2 separate regions of the Homo sapiens genome follow, and region 1 is reported to be linked to region 2. Evidence: microRNA targets listed by miRTarBase, many of them from high-throughput screens and not tested one by one. Region 2 holds a microRNA gene; the other region holds the end of a gene's coding sequence.
What was found. Region 2 holds the annotated microRNA hsa-miR-1273c (GGCGACAAAACGAGACCCUGUC, at 2,198-2,219, shown strand). A microRNA usually pairs through its seed, bases 2 to 8, with sites in the 3' UTR of a target mRNA and lowers its output. Matches are read on the target gene's strand: a 7mer-m8 pairs with bases 2 to 8, a 7mer-A1 pairs with bases 2 to 7 and ends in A, and an 8mer does both.

Region 1: miRTarBase lists MBL2 as a target of hsa-miR-1273c. The part of its 3' UTR that is shown has no 7-base or 8-base seed match.

The regions. Positions count from the first base shown.
Region 1 is chr10:52,764,437-52,768,436 of GRCh38, forward strand. It overlaps MBL2 (mannose binding lectin 2), which reads right to left. Exons shown (of 5, transcript NM_001378373.1): 5 at 944-4,000. The coding sequence ends at 3,701. Among named protein-coding and RNA genes, the nearest start is that of MBL2, 6.3 kb to the right of the region's middle.
Region 2 is chr6:154,851,172-154,855,935 of GRCh38, forward strand. MIR1273C (microRNA 1273c) reads left to right here and starts at 2,189; the gene lies at 2,189-2,265.

The DNA.
Region 1 (4,000 bases), not on the chromosome of region 2:
ATACAAGAAATGATAAAGACAGGAACAGATATAAATAAATGTAATCATAGAGGTTAGTAAACACCAAAAAGAAGTTTTTGGAAAAATTTAATAAAATGGACAAATCCTTTGCAAGATTGATTAAGAAAAAAAGAGATGGGCCAAGCACAGTGGCTCATGCCTGTAATCCCAGCACTTTGGGAGGCTGAGGCAGGTAGATCACCTCAGGTCAGGGGTTTGAGACCAGCCTAGCCAGCATGGCGAAACCTCGTCTCCACAAAAAATTAAAAAAATTAGCCAGGAATGGTGGTGGGCATCTGTAATCCCAGCTACCTGGGAGGCTGAGGCAGGAGAATCTCTTGAACCTGGGAGGCAGAGATTGCAGTGAGCCAAGATCGTGCCACTGTACTCCAGCCACTCCAGCCTGGGTGACAGAGTGAGACTCCATCTCAAAAAAAAATACAATAAAATAAAGATAAAATGCAAATAATCATAACAGATACATAGACATTGCTATAGATCCTACTTATATTGAAAAGAAATACAAAGATATTGTAACAATTTTATGCCAATACATATATATTCAGAGGAAATTGACACATTCATTGAAAAATATAACTCACTGAAACCGAACAAAAGACAGAAAACATGAATAGGTTTAGATCATGAGGAAATTAAATCTGAAATTAAAATCATTTCCCAACAGAAAACACCATTCCAAGATGGCTTCACTGGTGAATTTATCTAACATTAAAGTATAATTTTACACAAATTATTTTAGATAATAAGGAGCATGAGAGCACATCACAGCTCATTTTAATGAGGCTTACATAACATTGACCCCAAACCATAGCAAGTGCATTAAGGAGGGGAAAAAAAGCTAGTATCTCTCATGAACATAGGTGCAAACGTTCTAAACAAACTATTAACAAGTCCACTCCAATAATACATACACAAGATAAAATGTGACTAAATGGAGTTTATTCCATCAAAGCAAGGTTGATTTAATTTTTAAAAATCGATATGTGTTATGTATAATATCACATTATCTCATTAAAAAGCATGTATCTAGCGGCATAACTGTGTGTATTAAGACCTAAAATATAGTATCCTGATACTTTACTACACACTTTAAAGGTGTTAACTTATTTCATCATCCCCACAATTTTCATGAAATAAGAATGATTATTTTCTCTCAGCTGCAAATACATGGCTGAAACACAAAGTAACTGGCTCTAGATCATGTAGCAATTAAGTGACAGAGCTGTGAATCCAGTTTAGATAGGCCTGACTGGAGCACTTCATTATATTGTCTTTCAGGAGTCTATACCTGATCTGGTGGTCTCTGTATTGGGGTTGCTAACCAGTGCAATAAGGTAAGAAAAAAGGTAAAGCAATTGGGAAGAAGCAAGTATTGCCATATTTTCAGCTTACATGACTATGCATATACAAAATCCAGAGGAATCTACAAATTACTAGATTTAAGAAATAAACTTATTGAGTTTACTAAACATCGTAAGACTACACACAAAACTTAACTGTATTTCTGTGTACAACAATAGAAAAGAAAAAATATTTAAAATATATTATTAAAATCACTAAAACCACCAAAACAAGATATACAAGGTTTTTAAACTAAAAATGTCAAAACATAGCAATTAAGTTAAAGAAATTCTAGTTACATGAAGCGATACATGATGAACATTGATTAGAGATTCAGTAGTAAGTTGCCAGTTCTGCATAAGTTGATTGATAGACTCAATGTGGTCCCAGTAGAAACCTCATCAGGATTTTGTAGAAATTGAGAAGCTGTTTCTAATATTTATATGGAAATCTTGACTTTAAGAAGAACAAAGCTGGACTATAGTTACAACTATAAATGTACAATAATTAAGATAGTGTACTGTTTGACACAAGCATCAACAAATAGACTAGAATAGACAGCCCAGAAACAGACACACACACATACAGTTACCTAACTTACAAAAATGCACCACCCTAGTTCAGTGGAGGAAAAATGGTCTTTCCTACATAGTGCTGTCTCAAGTGGATATCTATTCTACCAGGAATAGATAGAATGTTTATTAATAAAACTATTAGAAAAAAATGGAAAAATATCTTCATGATTTCAAAATCATGAAAAATCTCTTCATGGTTTCAAAATCATGAAAAATATCTTATGATTTTGGGATGGGCAAAAATTTCTTAAACATGACACAAAAAGCACTAATTTTGAAAGAAAATATGAATAAATAAGACTTTCTCAAAATTAGGAAATTTTGTTCATCAAAATTCAACATTAGGAGCAAGTCAAAAACTAGCAAAATATTTGTAATACACATTAAAAAGGACATATTCAGAATGTAAAAATAACTTAAAAATCAGTAAGAAAAATATTGGCTAACTAATTTAAACAAAATACAAAAATGTGAACGGGTACTTCACAAAAGAAGATACCCAAGTGCCCAATAAGCATATAAAAAAGTGTTCAACCTTATTACATGTTGGGGAAATACAGATTAAAACCATGGGGAAATATCACTTTACATCCACAGGAATAATGAAAATCAAGAGAACTGAAAACATTGACTTTTTACAAGCACATAGAGCATCTAGGACTGCCACACATTGCCGGTAGGAGCATAAATTCATACAATCACTTAGGAAAACTGGTAATATCTACTAAAGCTGAATACATGCTTTCCTCATCCTCTACCAGTTCCACTCCTGGATAGGTAGTGAAATTAGTGCACCATGTCCACCAAAAGACAAGTCCAGGAATGTTCGTGGGTTCTCTTCCTCATGGCCAAAAATTGGAAGCCACTTAAGTGCCTATTAACAATAGAATGGATGAACTGAGGAATATTAATATAAGGGAACCCTACATGGCAATGAAAAGGATGAAACTTTTGTACACATGACATGAATGAATCTCACAGACTTAATTCTGAGTAAACAAGACATACAACATTACACACAATATGATTCCAACTATACAATGTTTATAAACAGACGAAATTACTGTGCAGTCATGGAGGTCAGAATAGTATTTTCCTAGGAGTTAGTACTAGGAGGAGTTATAACGGGGCTTCTAGGGAGTCAAAAATGTCCCATATCTTAATCTAGAAAGTGAGTATATAGGTATGTATGTGTGTGAGAATTTGTGAAGCTGTTTGCTTGAGATTTGTTATTTATGTTCTTTACATGGTTTAATATCTCATTAGAAAGAAAACAGAGTTCATAGAGAAAGTTACAAAATAGATTTTCTTAATACCTGAAACTTGGTAAAAAGCTGTGGTATTAAACTGTGGTGATGTCATTAGGGGAGCCCTCTACCCAAACAGAAAGGAAGGCTCAACAGAGCACAGGTGTTTGTTGTAAATGGAAAAATAAATCCGTCTTATTTTCATACTGCAGCAAGTTAACACTATCGAAAGCATTACAGATTAATTAAACTAGATAATTAATGTAGGATGCAAAAGATAGGGCCTCATAGTATATATTAAAAATATTATATAATTAGCATGACTACTACTGCTGCTGCTAACTACTACTACTACTATTATTGCTTTGTTGGTGCTGTTAGTGATCATTTTTAGTGATTGCCCACAAAAGGAACAATACTGGATATGAGGAAATTGATATAATTTATCTTTTCAAGCATACTGTGGGCCTGTGGGTTGCAGTAAAAAGACAAGGAGGGCCTGAGTGATATGACCCTTCAGATAGGGAACTCACAGACGGCCAGATGGGAGGTGGAGCAGGGGACGTCATTCCACTGGCCATTTTTCAGTAGCAATACACAATCTTCATCAGAACCAGCATTGTTGGGTTCACCCTCGTTCCAGTTTGTGTAGGTCAGTCTATTTCCTGTCAGATCCACAAACTGCCCTTCTGTCTTCTCATCAGTGATGCCCAGGAAGGCTTCCTCCTTGATGAGATTCTGAATGGCTCCATTCTCTGCAGCATTCCTGGGGGTGGCCACAGAGGCCTGGAACTTGACACACAAGGCCTTCACTTT
Region 2 (4,764 bases):
ACGCCTGGCTAATTTTGTGTTTTTAGTAGAGACGGGGTTTCTCCATGTTGGTCAGGCTGGTCTTGAACTCCCGACCTCAGGTGATCCGCCTGCCTCGGCCTTCCAAAGTGCTGGGATTACAGGCGTGAACCACCGCGCCCAGCCTTCCTGTATTTTTTTAAAACTCTCTCTCTTCACTGACACCAGGTGTTGCTATTAATGTGCTCAAATCTCTCACTTATAAAAAAGAATAAAACCTCTCTCTTTTCTAGTTACTGGTCTGTTTATTCTTTTGTAGAATGATCTTTGGGAAGAGTGTTTTCATTTATCCCAGTCTCTTCATCTTTTATTCCTTAGTGCACTGTCGTTGACTTTTGACCCCACCAATCCATTGAAATTTCTTTCCAAAGTCACTAGTGATCTATTGACCAAATCTAGCAGCCATTTTCATTGCTTATCTTACTTGATAGCACCACAGATTTAATGTTAGTGACTACTTTCTTGAAACTACTCCCTTGACTTTGCAGACCACTCTCCTGTGCCCATCGTCAGTGTTTCTTTTTTGAATTCTACAACTTCCCATGTGGTTCCATCTGTTCACACATGTTCATGCCCACATGAGCTCACTTAGGACCAACATACCAGTGAGTACACCATTGATACTCAGGTCTGCCTGACTTTCTACCTAGATAGCTTATAAGTATCTCAGGCTTAATCTCTATATTTTCTCTTCCTAATTCCCGCCAAAAATGTTTTCTCTTTTCCCAGTGGTTGACATTCCCATTCTTTCCATCTCCCAAGTTAGAGACTAGGAAACTATTCTCTTTTGCTCTCATCCCTTAGTAACAAAGTGGTTAGGATTTTTACTCACTAAACATAACTGAAATTTGCATTTCCATTGCCTTTGCCTTGGTTCAGTCCTGTTTTTTGCGGGGGACGGAATTTCGCTCTTGTTGCCCAGGCTAGAGTGCAGTGGCATGATCTTGGCTCACTGCAACCTTTGCCTTCCAGTTTCAAACGATTCTCCTGCCTCAGCCTCCCAAGTAGCTGGGATTACAGGCGCATGCCACCATGCCCAGCTAATTTTTGTATTTTTAGTAGAGATAGGGTTTCACCATGTTGGCCAGGCTGGTCTCGAACTCCTGACCTCGTGATCTGCCCACCTTGGCCTCCCAAAGTGTTGGATTACAGGCGTGAGCCACTACGCCCGGCCTTGATTCAGTCCTTCGTTGACAGTTCCAGTGGCTTCAAAACTATCTTCCAGGCTCAACACTGACAAACACAACTTCTGCAATGCTTACCAGAGTAATTTTTCCAGAATTTTCCTAGGTGAAGAGAGAGCGTAGCATCTGGAGCTTACGTTGCCAGAGTTTGAATTGAGGGCAAATCATTTTTCTTTTTGGTGCTTCAGAATTCTCAGTGGGAATGAACATGTTAGTACCAATTTTATAAGGTTGATGTAGAGTTAAGTGACTGAGTACATGTAAAGCTCTTGAAACAGTTTCTGGGTAAATAATGTTAGCTGCTATTAGTTTATACGATCATTAATGTTGTAATACACATCTGAACACACCTACCAAAAGTTCTTCATTTCTGTGGTAACCTACCAAATAAAATTTAAACTGCTTATTCTGACTTGCTGGACTCATCATGACCTAACTCTGTTTACTTTTCCAGTTTCTTATCTGATCTCTGCTGTAAATACGATGTGTTTCAGCAATTTGATACCCTTAGCAGTTCCTCCAGAGTGCTTTTACTGCTTGACTGTTTCTTCTCCCTGAAATGCTGTCCCCATCTATACCGTATAGACTCCTACTTGTTGACCTGTTTGCTTTTTTGATTTTAAGCAAATGAGCTCTTTGAGGACAGAGATCTTATTAATGCTTATGTCTGACTCATAGTACACATTTAGTAAAAATTTGTTGAAAGCATAAATGAACATTTAAAAAACGAGAAGAGACTGGGCACAGTACACTCCCAGCACTTTGGGAGGCTGAGGTAGGAAGATTGCTTAAGCCCAGGAGATCGAGACCAGCCTGAGCAACAACGTAAGACTCCATCTCTACAAAAAACCTAAAAATATTAGCCAGGTATGGTGGTGTGCCCTGGTGGTTCCAGCTACTTGGGAAGCTGAGGTAGGCAGATCACTTGAAGATCAGTTGAGCCCAGGAGGTCAAGGCTTCAGTGAGCTATGTTCACGCCTCTGCACTGCAGCCTGGGCGACAAAACGAGACCCTGTCTTTTTTTTTTTCTGAGACAGAGTCTCGTTCTGTTGCCCAAGCTGGAGTGCATGATCTCACCTCTCTGCAACCTCCGCCTCAGTACCAAGTAGCTGGGACCACAGGTGCTTGCCACCATGCCTGGCTAATTTTTTTTTTCTTTTTTTCTCTGAAGACGGGGTTTCACCATGTTGGCCAGACTGGTCTTGAACTCCTGACCTCAGGTTATCCACCTGCCTTGGCCTCCCGAAGTGCTGGGATTACAGGCGTGAGCCACTGCACCCAGCCCAAGACCCTGTCTTCAAAACAAAACCTAGAAGAATCAAACCACTGAAATCTGGAAAAATTAGTTACTTGCTACACAAAGCCTTGCACCAGCAACTTCAGCATCACTTGGAAGCTTATGATGCTCAGAATCTTAGGCTCCATCCCAGAGTCACCGAATCAGGATCTGCGTTTTTAAAAGATCCTCAAGTGATTCATAGGTGTGATAAAATTTAGTTGTAGTTCATTTATCTTTTCCCCAACAAACACAAGTTTTCATATATTCGAAGTCTTATTTTTGATGTTACTATAGATTAAAAGAATTTTGTAAATAAGCTTAGTGACAAGAAAAGTGAAACAAATTTAAAAATAGCAGTTAAACTGAATAATGATTTTGTTTCCTCCTAAGACAACAGTTAGCAGAAGTCATATGTACAGTTGTTTCTGAAGGTGAGATCATTTTTTAACTAGAGCTGCTCCATGGTGTATTTAAGAGTTTTATTTGATACCATCTCTGGTAATATTAGAGCCTTGAGAGCATGTCTCATATGAATATTTTTATTTTGCCTATAGATTGAATTTCATGAAATGTTGAGGTGGAAGTCTGTGGATTAGGACTGAGGGAATACCTTCTTTGGTTCTTTCTGATTTTTTGACAGGCTTCCCTAAGTTTGTCCTAGGCCTCACTCTACCTTAGTAGATACTGGCAATGTGCCCATTAGGAGAGAATAGAATTCAGTAAAATGTGAAAGGTTTTTAAAAAGTGTCATTGATAAATAAGATGAAAAGATTGGAAACCATCAAAGCTTTATTACTTAAAAGTTAACGTAGGCACTATGTTCAGCTCAAGTACCTTAAGAGGTATGTCTTCGTGCTTACACATCAACATACAGAGGTTAATGTTGTTATATGGCACAACTTTTGTGTAGGAAATGTTTCAGTCACAGTATTAAAGTTTCTATTAAAATATTTCTAAAAATATGGGAAATGTGACATTTTAAATTAATGGGCCTGAAAAAAATAGCTTAAAGTTAAATGTTTTTATCGGATTATAAGAGTTCCAAGTTTCTTTCTAGATTATTTGAAATAGTTTACAAAATGCTATTTTAAACAGACTTTCAACCTGTTTCAAAACTCAAATATAGATGCCTGAGGGTTGAGAGAAAGAGAGTGTGTTACCACATGTTTATCATTGGAATGTAGAAACAAATTCATACTCAATTCAGCAAATACTTATTGAATAATATATATATTTCAGATGCCTTGATAAAAATTGGTGACAGTAGGTAATTGAGAAAGATATTACGTTATTGACAGAACACAGTTCCTGCCTTCAAGGAGTTTACCTTTTAGTGAGAAACAACCAGTAAATTCTATTTCAATATAATGTATGAATTGCTGTAACAGATTGGGTACGTAAGATACAGCTAGAACATAGAGAAAGGATGCTAGTTGCTAGATTTTCATTAGAAGATGCATTTTTGTTTCAGCAAATTAACTTCCTAAGTCTCAATATCCTCATCTATAAAACTAGAAATAAAAAGTACCTGGAAGACTCATTTTGAGGGTCAAATGAAAATACATGTGCAGTGCTTAGTACAATACATAAAACAGACTGCATAATAAATGTTGACTGCTGCTAATACTTAGTGGCCATTACTTAGGAAATCTTTCCTTCTGTCTTTGTGATTTCTGCTTCCCTTTCTTCTTTATTTATTTATTTTATTTTTAATATTCGTAGCCCTAGTCCATGGATTTGAAGGAAACATTGCTAAAATCATGGAGGTAAAATTTAGGTTTCTTTGGACATTTCTTTTCTCCTATTGTCCCTTCCCTGCCCACCCAACATGAATAACCCTAGTCTCCTCTTTAACTTTTGAAAGTTTCCGGAACAGTAATGGTAGGGTCCTTTTACAGCATGATGTCACGTGTTACTCAAGACTTGTACTGTCCAGTATGGTAGCCTTTAGTCACCTATTGCTATTTAAATTTATAAAAAATTAAAAATTCAGTTCCTCAGTCACACCAGTCACACTTAAATGCTCAACAGCCACATTAGCTAGTGCCTACCAAATTGAGCGGCACAAGTACAGAACATTTCCAGGAGGTCCTATTTTATAGCGTTACTCTAGAAGAGCAATTGCTGATAACATAGGCTGTTTACCTTAATTAAAATTATATGATTCAGAATTCTCTGTCCCAAACTATATTTAAATTTTTTTTTTTTTTTAATTCTCACTTCTGGTTAGTTTCCATTAAGGAGTTACCATGCTTCACAATGCTGATTCTTATTTTTATAAAT